Linked DNA regions of Homo sapiens: all the other regions are linked to region 1. Evidence: fine-mapped expression QTL. A gene starts in region 1. Each other region holds a variant in brackets. All regions are shown on one strand. Distances are between the middles of the regions.

Region 1 (6,411 bases):
ACTCTCAGCCTCCGAGAGGTCCTGTGCTCCGCCGTCCTTCATTTGTCCAGACCCACAGTGGTGTCTGGCCTAGTCCTGGCCCTGGCAGAGCAGCTCTGTGTCCTCATCTGTGACTCAGGACCCCCAACCCCACCTCCCGAGGCTGTTTAGGGGCTGGATCAGGGGAAGGTGGAGGGGGCTCCTGGTCACGCTGTCCTTCATCTCCAGGGAGGCCCAGGGCGGGCAGAGGCTGCTGCTCTCCACGATGCATGAGGAGTACGAGTTTGTGTCACCCAGCAGTGTGGCCATCGCTGAGCTGGTGGCCCTGTTCCTGGAGGGCCTGAAGGAGAGGTCCATTTTCGCCATGGCCCTGCAGGACAGGAAGGCCACAGGTGCCAGACTGGGTGGGGTGGGGTGGGGTGGGGTGGGGTGGGGGAGGGCCGCGCATGGGGTCTGTAGGTAGGTGGCATGCTCATCTCCACACAGCAGCCACAAGGCAAGCAGAGGGAGGGAAGGCCCCAAAGCTCTGTGGGGGCAGCTTTAGGCAAGGCCCTGCCTTCTTTCAGCCACTGCTTCCTCTTCTACAAAATGAGGGGCTAAAGGAGGTGGTCTCCAGCCCTGCATAGGCCAGCCATGCTCAGCGCTGCACTGCTGCAGAAGCACTGAGAAAGGCCAGCCCCCAGCCCAGGGAAGTTTTGAACACCATCCCCACAGCGCACTGCTGCAAAAGCACCCCATTATCCCATTTTACAGACGTGAGGCCAGAGGCCCAGAGATGGAAGTAGCTCACCCAGGGTCACACAGCTCAAGGGGGTGGGAGCCTAGTTCTTGGCCACAGCTCTCCCACAAGCCAGCACTCCATCGAGAGCTGGGCTGTGTCTGTGGGCTATGGGGGAGCATGGCAAAGCCCCAGGACCCCCGCTGGGCCAGCCTGCTGGCCGGGTGGTCATGGGCGGTGGGTGGTGTGGTTAGTGCAGGGACTTCAGAAGGGGGTGCTGGTTGGGATGTAGCAGAAGAGGCTGTGTGTGGGGTCTTTGGGCAGTGAGAAATGTCAGCCGAGATGTGCTGCCCTATCGCCCCATTCAGTCCTCACGGCCACCGCAGGAGGGAAAGAGGATTGCCATCTCCAAATTCCAGATAAGGAAGGGGTCTAGAGAGGCAGGCAGCACTCAGGCCAGGCGTGGGGACTGCCAGCCTGTGCATCCTCCCCTCCCTCATCCCTGGCTCCTGGTCAGCCCTCCGAGGGTCTCCCAGGGCTAGGGCTGCAGTCAGAGCTCTCGAGCCCCCACCCACCCTGGGCTCTGTGCCTGTGCAGCTGCAGCAGGTGACAGCCGTCTGAGGCCCCTGAGGTTCCAGTCCCACCATCGCTCACTCTTGGAGTGGTCTTCTGCCCACCACTCTATGCCTCGGTTTCATCTGTCAAAGGAGATGACCCACAAAATTCCAGCACAGCCTCTGGCCCCTGCAGAGCCCTCAGCAAATAGCCTCCCTGCCCTTACAGATGACACCACCCTCCTGGCCTTCAAGAAGGGGGACCTGTTGGTCCTCACAAAGAAGCAGGGGCTGCTGGCCTCTGAGAACTGGACCCTCGGCCAGAACGACAGGACAGGCAAGACGGGGCTGGTGCCCATGGCCTGCCTCTACACCATCCCCACGGTCACTAAGCCCTCGGCACAGCTGCTGGTAACTGGCACGCTCCCCTGTCCTCAGCCTGGGTACCCGAGGTCAGGGTGGAGCAGTCCTGGGATGCCTAGTTGGGAGGCCTAGCTCAGGGCCTGCAGCCCACCTAGCAGAGGCCAGGAGGGCCACCCGGGCAGCCCCCACCATTCCTGCGGCAAGGTGTGTGTGCAGTGCCAGCCCAGCTCTTGGTACTTAGTAGGTCCTCAATAAATGGGTGTTCCCTCCCTCTTCCATCATGGGGGTGTCCGGGGGACAAACCCAATCTTTCTCTGCCTCATTTACACTCTGACCCAGGGGGACTCAAGTCTCTCCCTGCACAAGGGAACCACCCACCCCAGCCCCCAAGACCAGCCTCTCCGGAGGCAGGAATGGCAGGCATTGCAACATGTACATACTGAGTGCTGAGTATGTGCCCTGTGCCTGTGGTACGAGTCTGGGCATAATAGCAGCTCCACCCTCAGGGCAGACATTTGGGCAGATAATGACACATGGATGGCAACTGTGCAAAGTGCCACCAAGGAGAGGAACAAATAATAGGGTGGGGAACTTACCCTGTCTGGGAAGGCATCCCCGAGGGAGGGACATTTGTGCTGAGGCCTGAAGTTGGTGGCAGACTAGGCAGGCAGGGCTGGGGTGAGAGGTGGCCCCATGGAGAAGGGGAGCTGGGGAGCTGGGGGTCTGAGAAACCCAGAGTGCCGTGGCCCCCAGAACGGGTGATGTGGGTGCCACAGCCATTGGCACTCACCCTCCCAAGGGAAAGGAGACAGGCACCAAGAGGTAGAGTCATGGTCCTGGGTCACACGGCAGGTGACAGGGGTGTGGGTAAGCCCTGGCCTGTTCAGCCCTGGGCCTGACCCCTCCCAAGTCACTGAGGCTGCCAGGCCGGGAGGAGCCTGCAGGAAGGGCCTCATGGGCGGTGGCTCCTGGGCACCCACAGGCCTGTGCCCCCTTCAGAGCTTGCTTGCCATGTCACCAGAGAAGAGGAAGCTGGCGGCTCAGGAGGGGCAGTTCACAGAGCCACGTCCTGAGGAGCCACCCAAGGAAAAGCTGCACACCCTGGAGGAGTTCTCCTATGAGTTCTTCAGGTGCCCCCCAGCCCCGCTCCGCCTCATTGCACCCCCACCTCCCAGCCCCACCTCACCTCATTGCACCCCCTGCTCCCAGCCCCGCTCCACCTCATTGCACCCACTGAGAGCTGCAGAGAGGCCACGCCACCCATGTGGAGCCTGCCTGGCCTTCCCAGGCCAGGGGAGTCAGGAGGGGCTTGCGGCAGGGTGGGGTGCTCTGGCCCTCCCACAGCCACTCAGGGGTGTCAGAGGACAGAGAAGCGTGGGACAGAGAAGGCCACAGGGCAGGCCTCACACCAGCCTCTAACCTCACAGGGCTCCAGAGAAGGACATGGTGAGCATGGCCGTGCTGCCCCTGGCCCGTGCCCGTGGCCACCTGTGGGCCTATTCCTGCGAGCCGCTGCGACAGCCGCTGCTCAAGCGAGTCCACGCCAACGTCGACCTCTGGGACATCGCCTGCCAGATCTTTGTCGATATCCTTCCCCACCAGCCTGCCTGCACCTCGTCAATGCCAGGGCAGAGGCACCCAGCACATCCTGGCCCTACAGCTGTGCTCTAGGGCAGGAGAGCCCAGGAGATCTGAGAAACCTGGAGTGGCGGGACAGAGCCCACACATGGCTCACCGCAGGGCCGGGGTCGGGGTCAGCGTCTATCCCCAGTCTGTGTCAGCGTGGGGCTGCCCCAGCACTGTGCTCCTTGACAGCCACACCCATCCTCCGGTACATGGGCGACTACCCTTCTCGGCAGGCCTGGCCCACCCTGGAGCTCACCGACCAGATCTTCACACTGGCCCTGCAGCACCCGGCCCTCCAGGACGAGGTCTACTGCCAGATCCTGAAGCAGCTGACGCACAACTCCAACAGGTCTGCTGGGGCGGCGGCCAGCCCACGCGGGCACCCTCAGTCCTCATCCCGGCCCCTGAGGCCAGACCGAGGCTCAGAGAGGACACCGCAGCTGGTGGCGGCAGAACCCCTGCCTGGGCTCCTGCCTCAGCAGTGGGAAGGGTTGGGCCCTTGGTCTGCTCTGCTGATGTCCTAGGGGTGGTCAGAGCAGGAGAGGATGGCCCTGCCCACTCCCACCCTCTGTGTGTGACCTGGCAGGCCATGACCTCTCTGAGCTTCAGTGTCGTCTTCCACAAAATGGGTGCAATGCCCACCCGCCCCCATCTTGAGGGTGTGAAAGCCCGTGGCATCGGGCAGCCTGGCACAGCTGGCATGGTGCAGCCTGGCAGGTGCCCTCCCCCTCGGGCCCTCTAGACCCCAGGCAGCTCTCACATCCGTCCCTGCTCCCCAAGGTGCCTGCCTGGCCAGGGCCCCCTGAGGGGCCTTTCCCGGCTGACAAGTGCTACCCTTCAGGCACAGCGAAGAGCGGGGCTGGCAGCTGCTGTGGCTGTGCACGGGCCTCTTCCCGCCCAGCAAGGGGCTGCTGCCCCATGCCCAGAAGTTTATAGACACTCGGAGGGGGAAGCTGCTGGCCCCCGACTGCAGCCGCCGAATCCAGAAGGTCCTGAGGTGAGCCCAGTGCCTCCAGCCCCCAGCATTGGCCCTGGGCCCGCAGACCTGGGATGCTGTGGGGCCTGGCCAGCCTTCCAGGAGCTCATGGTCCTGGGAGGACTCTCCAGAAGCCAGTGTCAGCTTGGCAGGCAGGATTGGGCCCCGAGCTGCCAGAGAAGAGGGTGGAGGGTGAGGCCCAGGAGGGTCAAGAGAAGGCTCAGTCATAGCCACCAGCTCCCCTGCCCCACCACTGCCCAGCAGTGGCACAGAGGCACTGCCTGAGGGATAGAGAGAAACCTGGATGCCCCAGCCCAGGCCCTCAAGGCTGAGGTCAGAGGCCCATCCTTCCAAGTCCATGCGGCCTCCCTCATCCGCCCACAGCCGTGAAGCTCTTCCTTGGCCGTCTTTGCTCTCCCCCACCCCTCCTGCCTCCTCTGGCTTGGCCTCCTGTGGCCGTGAGGAGGGCAGGTTGACTGTAGGAGTGGCCATAATTTCAGTGGCAGCCGTGGTCACAGAGAGAGGTGGGCGCCCCATAGAGGCCCTGCCAGAGTCCCTGGCCCCTGCCCGATGCCCCTGTTGTGCGAGAATAAGAATACTGCCAGCCTTTCCTGCCGGCGCCTTCCCGGGAGCCCCTGGCCTGGCCCTTCCCCGTGTGTGCCCCAGGCTTTCAGGCACAGCTGCACCATCACTACCTCTGAGGCCGCGTGGAGCCAGGGGCAGCCCCCAGGACATGCGAGGGGCTGGAACCACCCCAGTGATGGTCACTGGGGTTTTCTTTTGTTTCTGGCACATGGTTTAGGGCCCACATCGGGGCTGGGGCATGGGTGAGGATGAGGGTGGGGGTGGCACCTGCAGCACACGCTGTCCCCCTCAGGACGGGGCCCCGGAAGCAGCCCCCGCACCAGGTGGAGGTGGAGGCCGCAGAGCAGAACGTCTCCCGCATCTGCCACAAGATCTACTTCCCCAATGACACCAGTGAGGTGAGGCCCTGCTCTGGTCTGCACGGCAAGTCTCAGGCCTCCAGAGGCCATGGGGCATCCTCCTTCCTGGCCCAGCCTGCTCCTTGGTAACCCCAGAGAGCCTTTTCTAGGGCTGTCCCATCCTAACCAGTCTCCCGCCCTCTCCCCATGGGATGCAGGCCCCACCTGCCCTTGGGTGCTTTGGAAGTCAGGCCAGTCCCAAGGTATGAGTTGGGGGATCCAGGCCCAGGACACAGGAGAGGACAGAGGGGTGGGCAGCAAGGGTGAGTCCCAGGACTTGGGGGCCCCTAGGGGCTTCTGACCATCTGGGGTGCAGGAGAGCAGGTATTCCCACTGTGTGTGCCTTGTGCACAGAGCCTGCCATGGCTGCTGGGGGAACAAAGGGGCCAGGGGGCAGGTAGGAGACCACCAGGACCCCACCGTGACACAGAGGCCTTGATCAGGGGCAGCAAAGACAAGCGGGCTGAGAGGCCAAAGTGGGCAGTGTCGCCTCGCGCCCTCTCCAACAGCACAATGGTCTTTTTGGCCTTGATATTCGGGTCCCGGTAACAGGAAGTTCCCACAGTCTGGCTGCTGGGCTCTCAAGGCGAGTCAAAAGGCCAGGCCTGCAGGGCCCCAGGACAGCGAATGCTGGGACTAAACAACATGAACCTCTGGCCAGGGTTCTGGAAGGGAGGCTTGCCCTGCTCAGGGCAGACCACATCCAACCCAAGTTTCATGAAGGAGCAAAAGTGCCAGGCTAGGAAGGCTCATCCTGGGCTGTACTGGCCCCTAGCCAGGCCCCGGGCCTCACCAGCTGCCTCTCTGTCCAGATGCTGGAGGTGGTTGCCAACACACGGGTGCGGGATGTGTGTGACAGCATTGCCACCAGGCTGCAGCTGGCCTCCTGGGAGGGCTGCAGCCTCTTCATCAAGATTTCAGACAAGGTGGGCCGGGCTGGGGCTGGGCAGACGGTGGGCGGACGGGCAGTGAGCGAGGCCCTAGGTGCTGCCTGTGGGGGCCTCAGCCTACCAGGGGCACCCATGCTGGACCAGGCTGCACGGCCAGGGCTGCTGGGACAGAGGTAGGTGGGGTCCTGGAGCAGAGCCAGCTCCACACGCCAATAGCCCACGCACAGCCGACTCCAGCGCAGCACCCAGGCCGTAGGCGGCCACTGGACCAGAACCCAGCAGGTTCTCAGGAGGACAGTCCCCGGAAGCCACCCAACTTCCC
Region 2 (6,700 bases), 54 kb before region 1:
AAGACAATCCGCAACGACAACTCAAGCCGCTTTGGGAAGTACATTGACATCTACTTTAACCCCAGCGGGGTGATCGAGGGCGCGCGCATCGAGCAATTTCTCCTGGAGAAGTCCCGGGTCTGCCGGCAGGTGAGGCCTCCCCCTTCCCAGGTCGGGAGTTGAGGGAATGGGGGAGGTTTCCAAGAGGGGCCCCTTTCCCACTCTCACCTCTCCTCCCCTCTTCCCCAAGGGCCCTCCCAGAACCCACAGGCCTCACTGGATAATGAGGGCCCTTCCCCAGTATTCCAGGACAGCAAATGATAGAAATTTTTCCATTTTGAGCAGGGCTTGGTGGCGCACGCCTCTAATCCCAGCACTTATGGGAGGCCAAAGCGGGTGGGTTACTTGAGGCCAGGAGTTTGAGATCAGCCTGGCCAACATGACAAAACCCTGCCTCTACAAAAAATATGAAAAAAAAAATTAGCTAGGCAGTGGCACACGCCTGTAATCCCAGCTACTTGGGAAGCTGAGGCATGAGAATTGCTTGAGCCTAGGAGGCAGAGGTTGCAGTGAGCTGAGATTGCACCACTGCACTCCAGCCTGGGCAACAGAGTGAAACTCTGTCTCAAAAAAGACTTTTCTCCATTTTGAATTTTCCATTCACATACATTTCTTCTTTCTTTGGTGCCTACCATTCCTCATCCCTACTAGAATTAATTCTGAGACTAGGCTAGTTGGGTGGGCCGTATCTTCAGGTATGTTAGGGGACATGGCAGAAAGACACAGATGACAGTATCCCAAATACCACATGGCCAGGAAGTACAGTGGCATGTGGCCTGTGTTGTCACACCAGGCCCTGTGCTCAGGGGGCCCCATGCTTGGTTTCATGCTCTGCTATTGCCACCTTGAAATTCTTACTAGCTTTTTAGCAAGAGGGCCCATGGTTTCCTTTTGCACTGGGCGATCATGTAGCCAGTCCCAAATGGTAGGAATCCCAACACATGGCACCCACAACAGCAGAATTAATGCACCTGTGTGTGTGTGTGAGTGTAAGGGGGTGCTCTCGTATGATGGCATAACACCTAACACATGCATGTGTGCAAATGAGTGCACACACACAGAAGGGGTCCAGAGGGGAGAATGCCACCAACAGAGGGGCTGTGGCTGTGTGAGAGGGACAGATGCCTCCGCACTGTGACAAGCTGAGAAGGAAGGTCACATTTAGTGACCCTCCGACCTGGTGCTATACTTTTCCTGTTTTATCTCATTTGACCTTCACAACCATGAGAGGTAGGTCTCTTTATCCCTATTGTACAGATGAGAAAACTGAGTCCAGTTAAGTTCGGCCCCTTGTCCAGGGTCACAGAGCCAGCAGATGGCAGAGTCTCTCTGCCCTGTCTGGAAGCTCCTATTTCTTGATATAGTGGTTGCTGAGTTCATAGAACTTGTCACCCAAAATGATACCCTGAAATGGGCAGGAAATTTCTAAAGCAGGTGAGAAACAAGGCCTGCCCAAGAAAAGAGAAAGAATTTAAAATTACGGCATATCTATACTACAGAGGAGGCGGTCTGTCCATGTCAATGTAAAGGATCACCAAGAGATATGTTTAGGTGAAAAAAAAGGAAGTAGCAGAACCACAAATATGTTTTGTGTAAAAAAAAAGAAACAAAGAAAAGAAAAGAGATAACTATTTATAGATATACTATAAGTAAATGTTTTTTTAAAAACATGTCTAGGTTCTGGGGCGGGGAGGAGGGGATTTAAGAAAGGGGAAGGCAGGATGGAAAGGAGCTCTCATTTTTTTGTTTTTGATCCTCCCACCTCAGCCTTTTGAGTAGCTGAGACTAGAGGTGTTTACCACCACATCCAGCTAATTTTCTTATTTTTTGTAGAGGTGAGGTCTCACTATATTGCCCAGGCTGCTCTCAAACTCCTGAGCTCAAGTAATCTTCCCGCCTCAGCCTCCCAAAACTGCTGGGATTACAGCCCAACTGAGACTCCCATCTTTTAACACTACTGCATATGCTTCAGATTGTTTGATTTGTATGAGAATGCATTTATAAATAGTGTTTTAAAAAATACAGAAGGCACCCTAGGCAACATGGCAAAACCCCATCTCTACAAAAAATACAAAACTTAGCCGGACGTGGTGGTGTGTGCCTGTGATCTTAGCTACTTGGTAGGCTGAGGTGGGAGGATGGCTTGAATCCAGGACTTCGAGGCTACAGTGGGCTGAGATTGCACCACTGCACTCTAGCTTGGGTGACAGAGCAAGACCTTCTCTCGGAAAAAAAAAAAATACTGAAGGCCTAGGGAGCCCCGTGGCTGTCAGATCTCTCGTGGGCCACTAAGTGCCTGTGAAGACTGTGGGACTATAAGAGAGCCCCGACTCTGTGCCATCACTCCTGGCCTGGAGACTTTGGGCACAGCAGTGTCAGGGCTTCGAGGAGCAGTCAAGATGCAGGGAAATGGAGTTCTCAGGGCAGGGATGAGACAGCCGCGGAGGCCCGGGACAGGGACAGCAACCAAGCCAGGCTGGCCCTGGGTCAGTGCCAGAGCTGCTCCTGGCTGAGAGATGTGGAGCGGAGGCCAGGGCTGGGCTGGGCAGAGGCAGTCTGAGGCCCTGAGGCCTCAGGGGAATGGCTCATGAATCTGTCTGGAATGCCCTCCCTCCCTCCCAGGCTCCCGAGGAGCGGAACTACCATATCTTCTACTGCATGCTCATGGGGGTGAGTGCTGAGGACAAGCAGCTGCTGAGCCTGGGCACGCCCTCCGAGTACCACTACCTGACCATGGTGAGCTGCCCACCTGCCGCCTCCCAGTAGCCAGTGGAAGGGAGGAAAAAGAGCTTGTGCCGCTCCACCCTCCGCGACAGCTGCAGAGAAGCCCAACGCTGGCCGGGCCCCTGAGGCGGGGCTGGTTCCCTTTGCCTCTCCTCGCCAGCCCCTCTCTGCTGGGAATCACCTTGCCCGCGTGCCTCCCGCTTCCCCGTCACATGTACCCCATGCCCCAGGCTGGACCCGGGGCCTCCCCGCAGACCTCATCTTCCTTTGGTCCCCACTGGATGACAGGCTCCCGGTGCCCAGTGGGCCACAGGGAGTTGCCCACATGCCTCCTGCTCCTGATTTCACTCCAATTGTCTGTCCTTGCAGGCCCCCTAAAACGTAAGCCCCGGGCCCCAGGAAAGCAAAGCCCTTCCTGTGCTCCCAGCTGCACCCGCCACCTAGGACAGGGCGGCACCACAGCCATCGCTCATTAGCTGAGGCTCCCTGGCCCTCAGGAGAACTGCGCCTCCTGGTTTATTGACCACAGAGTGGACCCAGAGCATTCTGCCTCTGGGATCTCTCCCATGCAACCCTCT[C/G]TCCTGGGTCCACTGCTCCAAGGCCTTCACCAGCCCCTGCCTAGACTTCATGGGTCCCCCATCGCCAGTCTTGACCTCTAATCTGTCATCTACCCTGCAGCCAAAGCACTCTTCCTGTAGGAAGGTTTGCACTGTAGTGTCATGCTTTGGATGGCACTGCTGCAGTGACCCCTGCGGCTTGTAGGGTAGAAGTCCAAACTCCTCCATGTGGTTTCCAGGTCCCTCCAAGATCTGCCCCTCTGCCGACCTCTCCCTTCTCAACACCCACCCCAGCCTCCCCGCAGCCCTGTCCCTGCCTCCCCACCTCGTGGCCTTGCTCCCATCATCCTCTGCCTAAACTGCCCTCTGTCCTCAGAGGCGGTGGGGCCAGCTCTGCACCTCCTCCAAGAAGCCTTTCTCCACCTCTCGATAGGGCTGGCCCCGGCCCCTGTGGTCTGGGCACCTGTAACAGGCAAATGGCCATGGCACGGTCACTGGCTCCCTGCCTGCCCCCCTGGATGCGCAGCACAGGGCCTGGCCCATGGCGAGCCATGGAAAGTGTTTCTTAAAGGAACAAACCCACAGTGTCCCCCAGAGAGACAAGGCAAGCTCGAGTAGGGACGAACGACAAATAGAGGATCAGAGAAGAAGTGTGACTTGGCCAAGGTCACACAGTGGCCAAATGCTGGTGCTGGTGGCAAGGCCTGATCATGCTGTGGCTACTGTGTCATGATTCTGCCTCTGAAAAGAGTTTTTGAGCGTGGACCCTACGTGGTCCACCCATTGCCTATGAAGTGCAGTGTCTCAGCCTTGCTGGTCCCAGGAGGGAGGTGGTGGGGCAGGGGATGGCCCCATTCACTGAGGCACCCTGTCCCTCAGGGGAACTGCACTTCCTGTGAGGGGCTCAACGACGCCAAGGACTACGCCCACATCCGCTCGGCCATGAAGATCCTCCAGTTCTCCGACTCCGAGAGCTGGGACGTCATCAAGCTGCTGGCTGCCATTCTCCACCTGGGGAATGTGGGGTTCATGGGTAATGCCGGTTCTGCCCCAACTGCACCCTTGGGGAGGGAGAGGGAAGGGGACAGGAGCAGGAAGGCATCTCTAGGGGTTCTCACAGGAAGGATCCTGTGGTCCAACCCAGGCCTGGAAAAATATATCTAAAAAATTCAGCTGTGATTTTGGAGGCCTCGTGAGGCAAAGGGGAAAATGTCAAAGCTTAAGGCTCTCCACAGGTGGAGACCGGCCAATCATCCCCCACTTTTAGCTGGGACCCAAAAGGGCTTCCCCCTTAAGGTTCAGGTAAGCCAGAGTAAACAAATCCACGTGTGAACTTGCAAACCAGGTTGTGAGCAAGGGGTGGTCTGGGGATTAAGTTGTCCTGACCTGTGAACACCCCCAAGCACCTAACGGCAGTTATTGACAGTCCTCGCTGGAAAAAAGCACCAGCAAGTTAGATTACAAATGATTCCTGTGAGTAGTTTTTCAAACACAACATCCAGCATGAAGCCAGGAAGAAATAGGAACAAGGAAATGAGATACCATGAACAAGAACCGGCAGAAATAATAAACAGTAGAAATCGATCCACAAAGATTTCAAAGTTGGAATTATTAGACACAGACTAGAGAAGTTCTGCTTATTTTGCTCAAGAAAAGAAGCAGCCAAGCTTGAAAATTTAGACAGCGAATGGGAAACTTTAAAGACATTATAGATTTATAAACAAACCACATAGAAATTCCATTCTAAAATTAAAAAAAAAAATAACCAAAAGGAAGAACCCAATGGATGGTTTAAGGGATTCTGTGCCTGTCTAGGAGATGGAATGTGTGAGCTGGAGGGAAAGTCAGGAGAAACTGAGTACAGCATGGAGAGAGGAATGGCGGGAGATGTCAGAGAGAAGGTGGAGACTGGGAGGACACCGTGGCAGAGGGAGCACACCTTTCATTGGAGTCCTAAAGGAAAGGAGAGAGAAAGGGGCAGAGGCAATATTTGAAGAGATAGGGCTGGTTCCAGAACTAAGGAGAGACCATTCTCAAAGCAATGGGAAGGGATAGACTTTTCATAAACTGTTCTAGAGCAATGGGGTGTCCATATAGAAAACAAAAGCTTGGGCCACCATCTCACGCCATGTGAGAATATTGCTTCCAGGCAAGCTGCAGCTGGGCTGATCTGTCGTCTATCAGCCAGACTGCACACTTCGGCCAGGGAAAGGTGGGTGCTAACCAGAGGTGGGCACCGGGGCCTGGGACAGCATCAGAAACATGATGCTGAGGAAGTGAAGCAGGCACAAGAGAATGCAGACAGATCCACTAACATAACATTTGTTTGTTTGTTTGTTTGTTTGTTTTTGAGACAGGGTCTTGCTTTGTTGTCCAGGCTGGAGTGCAGTGGTGGGATCTCGACTCACTGCAAACTCCACCTCCCAGGTTCAAGCGATTCTCCCACCTCAGCCTCCTGAGTAGCTGGGATTACAGGGGTCTGCCACCACAGCCTGGCTAATTTTGTATTTTTAGTAAAGATGGGGTTTCACCATATTGGTCAGGCTGGTCTCGAACTCCCAACCTCAGGTGATCCTTCTGCTTCAGCCTCCCAAAGTGCTGGGATTACAGACACAAGCCACTGCGCCTGGCCCACTAACATAACATTTAAAAGCCGGCACATTAAATGCTGTTTAGGGACTCTATGTAGGGAATAAAAAGCTAGGAAGTTAGAAGTCGGGAGGGTGCTTACCTCCGGAGGAGAGGGACACAGTCTCAGCCCGCAAGGACCTCGGAGGGCTGTGGGTGCTGGCAGATCCTAGATTTGGCTTTAGCGTGGTTACGTGGTGCTGACTTTATTCTTTACAACACAGCTTTGTGTTTTATGCACTTCTTTATCTGTATATTTTATCTCCAATTTTTTTCAGTTTAAAAAAGAAAAAAAGCAAAAACAAAGACACCCAAAGGTCCCGTCCCCCACCAGCCTGGCACGTCCTAAGCTGGACGTTGGTTGAAGAGGAGGAACTGGAAGCTGGGAGGCCAGTCAGGAGACGGTTGCAATAGAGCCAGGCCTGGCTTACAGCTGGAGCTCCATTAGTGCTTTGCTTCCTGTGACTGAATAAATAACGAAATGTCCGGGTTTCCACACCCAGCAGCATGGACTGAGGGGCCTGATGGCTCATCTCTCCAGTGCCAGTGTCTGCTGTGTTTCCCAAGTCAGACTTCTCCCTCCAAATAAGCCCACCTTTCTTTAAACTTCCCTTCGACCCAGGGCCCTGGTCTCCTCAAGAGGAAGTGGTCTGCCACGTTCATCAACAGCTAAGGTGTGAATGACCCATGGTCATGGGGCCGTTGGCTCCCTCAAAGAGAGGACACTGGGAGAGACCGTGGCTTACGCCAGG
Region 3 (6,700 bases), 34 kb after region 1:
CAGATAAGGAGATTGAAGCACAGAGAGAGTCAGTAACCAGCTGAGGGTCACAGAGGATTGGACTCATGTTCCTCCCATCTCCTCTTGGCATCCCCCATTCCGGATTCTGTTTCTTCAACAACCCCAGACCTTCCTCCATCCCAGCCTTCCTGATATCTGAGTCAAGGAAGTGTGTGTAAGGATCTGGGAAGAGTTGGGGGCCAGCCACAAGAAGTCTGGTCACACCCAAGATGAGCAAGTGTTGCTGAGGCCACGTCGGCCTGAGCAGCAGTCAGACCAAGGGTGTGTCCCCTATAGCCAGGCACACCAGGCTGCAACCCTGGCCCCGACGCCCCCTGTCTGTGTGACCTGCAGCACAGGACTCTGAACCTCAACTTCCTCGTTTATAAAATGGGCCAGGAATAGCTACCTCCAGGGACTGTTGGGAGGGTTCAGTGAGGCCATTCCTGCAAGCACAGCCCATGCTTCTGTCCTCCTTCCAACGAAGTCCTCACTGAGCACCTGCACTGATAGGCACTATTCCAGATGCAGAGGGTTTCGGGGAGGGACCCTACTGCAGCACAGCCCAGGGAGCAGCTCCAGTCCCTCAGCACTGCCTGGGCTTCCTCCCTGCCCCGCCTCCATGAAGCCAGCCAGAGGCCAGTGTCGGGTCACCTGGCCACATGAGGTCAACAAAAATGTACAAAAAGCCAGCCCACCATGGGGACGCTAGAAAATTAACATGCTGCCTGTTCTCACTCGTAGGTGGGAATTGAACATTGAGAACACATGGACACAGGAAGGGGAACATCACACACCAGAGGCTCTTGTGGGGTGGGGGGTGGGGGGTGGGGGGTGGGGGGAGGGATAGCATTAGGAGATATACCTAATGCTAAATGACGAGTTAATGGGTGCAGCAAACCAACATGGCACATGTATACATATGGAACAAACCTGCAGGTTGTGCACATGTACCCTAAAACTTAAAGTCTAATAATAATAAAATAAAAAAGAAAAAATTAACATGCTGCCTGGGCTGCTATACACAAGATGCATTGACACCATCAGAAACAGACTCCAAATCAGTATGAAACCTGTCTGAAATTAGAGCTTTTTTGAAGCCCTTGCCATATCTCTTTGCTCTAGTGGCTTTTCTTTTAAGCAGGTACAACTGAAACATGTTACACTAACAACAAAGAACTGACAAAGGACATGAACCAGAAGTTCAAAGAAAAACAGTGTGAATAGTCACATGCGCATGCATGCTCAGGGCTGCCCCAGGCCTGTCATCATCGTGCCTGTCCTGCCTGCATCTCAGCTGTGGTATCAGTACTGTGAAAATCACTCCAGAACAGCCTTGGGGCCATCAGTGCCCTGGCCACTCGCAGCCTGGTACCACAGTTATGCCACACGCATCCAGGGCTGTCCAGAGGTTGACCAGGGAGGGTGCCTGCTCCAGCTCTGCCACACTCAGGTGAGTGACTTGGCCTCCTGAGTCTGGGGGTCCCCACCTGAACAGCAGGCTGCCCCAGACCTGCCATGCCAGCACAAGCGGGAGCCCAGCATGCAGCAGGGACTCCACAGATGGCCGTGCTGCCGGCCTGCAGTTCCCGCCCTCCACTCGGTGCCCTCCTTCCTCTTCTGTTCTCAGCAAAAGATATCTTTGATGGCTCAGTCCTCTAATTGCCACTCTGGGAGCCTTCCCTGACCACACACAAGGAGCTGAGAGTGGGCTATGCTTGCCCTGGGTGGCACTGGCCTTCCTCTGCTCCTGGGTCCTCCAGGCCCTCCCCTACCTCTGCGACTTATGTTCCTGGCTCCCTCCCTGCCCCCCCGCCCCAGCCCTTCTGCCCAGCCTTGGCCTCCTCCCCAGGGTCCCTATCTGTCACCTTGATGCCAAGGACCCCAAGGTCACAGCCCTATTGCTCTCTCTTCCCCGCTGGCCCCTCGGCACTGCAAAGGCAACATTTTCAGGAGCTCCTCCTCATGCCCCTGACCCCAAGAGTGAGGGGAGGTGGCTCCACCACCATCCCCGTGCCCCTCCCAACCTCCCCATCCAGAGCCAACTCATTCTCTGAGATGCCCTGAGGACCATCCTGAACCCCACTGCTGGAGTCAGTCTAACCTGGGTTCAAATCACAGCATAGCCATGTTTGGGGTGGGTGAGTCCAGCAGGTGTCTGCTCTGCTCAGAACCTGTCTGCTCATCTATAAAGTGCAGCATGATCACCCCCGTCTGAAAGCAGTGCTGGGGGCTACACAGGCTCCCTCGTCTCTAACATAGGTCCCTGGGCGCACCCTGCCAGGAGAGCTGATCACAGGTGACATCCAACCCTGTTAGATAAAGTCGCACGCGCCCACCCTGTCGCCAACCCAGGGCCCATCCGACGCCGGGGCAGAGCCCACGGCGTCGGAGGGCCCCGGTCGGGTTTCCGAGGGAAGGCCTGCCCTGCCGCCGCAGCTTTCCGGCCATTGTCCCCGCCACCCGCCCCGCCCCTGGCCACCTACCCCGTGGCTGGCGGCGGGCTCTGCCGGTGCTGGCGCCGCCGGTACAGCCCCGACGCGGCCAGCGCACCCAGCCGGGCCGCCATGGCGCGGGGCAGCCGCCTTGAGGTCGCGGGCGCGGGCCGCCTGGTGCAGGGGCTATGGGACCACCTCGGAGGGGAGGCGCGGCCGCCTGGGGCCAGACACCAAGACGGGACGGGCGTGTGGGCGCCTCCCCCGCGCTGGTCGCGAGCTCACGTTACGCGCTGGGATCTCCAAAGGGCAGCAGAGTCAACTCCAAATAGAAAGGATATTGTTCGCGCCGCGGGGGCAGCTCCTGAAAGCTGAGGCTGGCGGGGGTTGGGTCCCGCTGGGAGGGGACTGGTCTGGGAAGGCCCCAGACAGCACTGAGGTGAGGTCCACAGTGGCGGCAGGACACCCAGGAGGTCTCCGGCTGCCACCTGCCAGGAGGAAAGCCTGTGCCCGTGGACACACTGAGGAGGGCAGAGTCAGCTGAGGAGGACAGGGAGGACCTGGCGCCTTTAGGATCCCTGCCAACAGTTAGGAAACCGAGGACCGGAGCCACACAGGCCCACATTCTGCTTTGCTCCCTTCTCTGAGACCCTCTGCCACAAACATCACCGTGGGGCACCCAGACCAGGGCAGAGCCGATCCTCTGGATCTGGCCAACAAATGGTCAGGCACCCCAAAAGAGGTCCTTATTTTAGAGAAAAGGCAATCCTCCAGCTTCCAGGGGAGCAGACGCAGAGGGACCTGGTGGCAACCACCAGGAAGGCACCATGTACCCCGCATTTTTACCCAGAGAGACTGGCAAAGTTACTTGTGATTCATAAACACCCGCGGTAGGCATCCAAACTGTGACCAAGGT[A/G]AGCCTGGTCAGCAGTACAATAAAGATCCAGAGCACTCATGGAAATCTTTAGCATTGATCCCATTTCCCTGAAAGACCTTTCTAGAAAGGTCAGAAAGCTTGAGCAGTATCTTCTTCTGCCTTCTGAAAGCAAGAGCTGGCAGCCGTCACTAAAGACAGCAGGGCACTGATCCTCCCAAACTAGGGTGGGAGAAAGCCTTGGAGGGGCTCACTGGCATTCAGATACCAGGCCCACACGCCACTGAGGAACACACTCACCCAGCAAGTCCCAACAGGAGGAGGTACTCATTAAGCACCCTGGCAGTCAAGTGACGACAAGCATTGGGTACAGTATAATTTGTAAATGTAGTCCAATTCCAAAGTTGCCCAACACTGATCAGTTCAACAAATAGTTTTTAAAGGTGGCCCCAGGGGCTAAAGGGCATGGAGAAGCTGAGCCCAGAGGAGCCAAAATGAATAGGGAATACCGCTGACTCTCTGATGTAGGTAGCCGAATGCTTAAGAAAACTTACACCGAAAATGTTCTTAACAGCAGCTACAAGTCAATGCCATAGGGCCTAGACCCTCTCACCACTCCCGACTCAGCCCATCCATGTGGAAATCCTCAACACTAGAATCCAGGACTCTCATGCAGACCCGCAGTTTTCTGTAAGGAGGAAACATTTATTTAGGGCTCCAAGGGTCACATATAGCACTGGAAAGGAGGCTACAGCCACAAGTGTTTTGTGCAACATAATCTGTAAATGAAGTTCAAGCACAAGTTTACCAAGTACTAATCAATTCAACAAATATTTACTATAAAAGCGGACATCGAAGGCTAGAAATTGAGAGAGGCTTAGAGTCTGATTGAGCCCAAATCCCAAATCTCTGCACAACCTTACCACCCATTCTGCAGCCTGTCCTGCTGCAGGGATGGGATTGGGAGCCACAGATACTGTAAACTGAATCTAGAACTCTATACAAAGTATTATACACCATGACCAAATGGGATTTGGTTCAGTGCTCTGGCTCTAGATATTTGCAAAAACACCGAGAGTGATGTCAGCAGAAAGTGGTGGAGTAAGGACCTCCAGAAGTTCATCCCTCCATAAAAGCAATGAAAAACCTAGCAAAAATTATCAGAATCTACTCTTTCAGAACTCTGCAAATCCACCAAAGGTTTTCAGTAACCCTAGGAACATTTGGTCAAGAAAAACAGATGAATCTTGGTAAACAAACAAACAAACACAAACCAGTGAGGTTTGTGTTGTTTTAACTTATCCTAGTCCCTTATTCCTGCTCCCTAACTCCATGGCTTCCTTGAATAATAATAGCTCGTGGTCCCAGTAAGGAGGTAGCAGAATGGAATATTATGAACAACTGTATGCCAATAAATGAAATAACCTACTGAAATGGAGAGATTCCTAGAAGGACACTACCAAAACGAACTCAAGAAGAAATAGAAAATCCAAATGTATCAGTCTAAATTTTCATACTGCTATTAAGAACTTCATGAGACTCGGTAAATTATAAAGGAAAGAGGTTTAATCGACTCACAGTTGAACAGGGCTGGGGAGGACTCAGGAAACTTATAGTCGTGGCAGAAGGCAAAGGGGAATCAAGGCACCTTCTTCACAAGGTGGCAGGAAGAAATACCAAGCAAAGGGGGATGAGCCCCTTATAAAACCAGCAGATCTTGTGAGAACTCACTATCACAAGAACAGCATGGGGGGAAACACCCCCATGATTGAATGACCTCCACCTGGTCTCTCCCTTGACACGTGGGGATTATAGGGATTACAATTCAAGATGAGATTTAGTTGGGGACACAAAGCCTACCCAAATCACTTAGTAAGGCCAGTAACATGTAAAGAGACTGAGACAGTAACCAAAAAACTTGTCACAAAGTAAAGCCAGAGCGACATGGCTTCACTGATGAATTATATCAAAGGTTTAACTAGAATTAACACCAAACCTACAAACAAACATACAAAACACCAGTGTGGTGGCACATGCCTATAATCCCAGCTACTCAGGAGGCTGAGGCAGGAGAATCACTTGAACCTGGAAGGCGGAGGTTGCAGTGAGCTGAGATCACGCCACTGCACTCCAGCCTGGGTGACAGAGTGAGATCTTGTCTCAAAAAGAGAAAAAAACAAAAAACAAAAAACAACAAACCTTCACAAAATCTTTCCAAACAAAAGAAAAGAAAGACTAGGAGGGAATACTTCACAACTCATTCTATAAATATTATCTTGATCTCAAAATAAAATGCTAAAGTCACATAGATGCAAATGTCCTCGATAAAATACAATAAATCTAACACTCTATAAAAAGTATTATACACCGTGACCAAATGGGATTTATCCCAAGAACATAGGGTTGGTTTCACATCCAAAATTCAATGTAATATACCATATCAATAGAATATAGGGAGGACACTCTATGACCATCTCAACAGATGCAGAAAACACATTTGGCAAAATCCAACATCTTTTCATAATAAAAGCACCCAACAAACTGGGAATAGAAGGGAACTTCTTCAATTTGATAAGGGGCATCTACCCAAAACCCATAGCTAACATCATACTTAGTGATGAGAAAATGAATGCTTTCCTCCTAAGGTCAGGGGGATTTCCAGTCCGCTATTTGTTTTCAACATTGCACTGCAGATTCTATCAAGGACAGTTAGACAAGAAAAAGAAATAAAAGACATCTAGTTTGAGAAGGAAGAGTAAAACTATTTTTATTTACATATTACATACTCATATATAGAAAACTCGGAAGAATCCCTCCTCAAAAAAAGAAACCCTATTTACAGATAAGAAATGAGTTCAGTAAGTCTGCAAGGTATACACTCAATATACCAGAATCGCTAGCAATGAGAAATCTGAATATGAAATAAAACAACCCCATTTGGGACAGCATCAAAATGAATAAAATACTTAGGAGTAAGTTTAACAAAATAAATGCAAGACTTCTTATTCACTGAAATTATAAAACATTATTGATATAAATTAAAGAAGACCTAAATAAAGATATCCCATGTTCATGGATTGGAAAACTTAATATTGTTAAGATGGCAATACAACACTACATCAAATTGACCTATAGATTCAATACAATCTCCATTAAAATTCCTGCCTTTTTTAAAGAAATAGACAAGGCATTCCTAAAATTTATATGAAAATGCAAGTGACACAGAATAATCAAAACAACTTTAAAAAAAAACAAAGAGGCCAGGTGCAGTGGCTCACACCTGTAATCCTAGCACTTTGGGAGGCCAAGGCAGGTGGATCACTTGAGGTCAGGAGTTCAAGACTACCCTGGCCCACATGGCAAAACCCGATCTCTACTACAAATATAAAAA

Alleles and levels. Alleles are on the strand shown, and positions count from the first base shown. SD is a standard deviation of normalised expression in the study named. Not every link is listed here.
For the expression in visceral fat of the gene that starts at base 2,620 in region 1, allele A in region 3 goes with a higher level than allele G (small effect, 0.24 SD a copy in GTEx).

What was found. PIP is the estimated chance that this variant, and not a neighbour inherited with it, causes the effect. A credible set is the group of variants that fine-mapping cannot tell apart.
Region 2: its variant is the best candidate, but not a certain one, in a credible set for the expression of MYO7B-AS1 in subcutaneous fat (GTEx, PIP 0.56).
Region 3: its variant is the best candidate, but not a certain one, in a credible set for the expression of MYO7B-AS1 in visceral fat (GTEx, PIP 0.76).

Annotation. Positions count from the first base shown.
Region 1 is chr2:127,628,165-127,634,575 of GRCh38, forward strand. MYO7B-AS1 (MYO7B antisense RNA 1) reads right to left here and starts at 2,620. Exons shown (of 3, transcript XR_923314.3): 1 at 2,211-2,620; 2 at 1,273-1,395; 3 at 1-349. MYO7B (myosin VIIB) reads left to right here. Exons shown (of 48, transcript NM_001393586.1): 34 at 208-371; 35 at 1,481-1,662; 36 at 2,614-2,744; 37 at 3,042-3,199; 38 at 3,436-3,589; 39 at 4,082-4,237; 40 at 5,094-5,199; 41 at 6,012-6,125. RefSeq lists silencers at 4,653-4,742, 4,843-4,892 and an enhancer at 5,163-5,392.
Region 2 is chr2:127,573,934-127,580,633 of GRCh38, forward strand. MYO7B (myosin VIIB) reads left to right here. Exons shown (of 48, transcript NM_001393586.1): 7 at 1-129; 8 at 2,662-2,775; 9 at 4,200-4,353. Among named protein-coding and RNA genes, the nearest start is that of MYO7B, 42 kb to the left of the region's middle. RefSeq lists enhancers at 3,671-4,224, 4,273-4,322. The variant C/G (reference allele first, on the strand shown) is at 3,342.
Region 3 is chr2:127,661,820-127,668,519 of GRCh38, forward strand. The region is part of intron 1 of LIMS2 (LIM zinc finger domain containing 2); the gene reads right to left. Among named protein-coding and RNA genes, the nearest start is that of LIMS2, 10 kb to the right of the region's middle. RefSeq lists enhancers at 1-967, 1,005-1,545, 1,546-2,085. The variant A/G (reference allele first, on the strand shown) is at 3,352.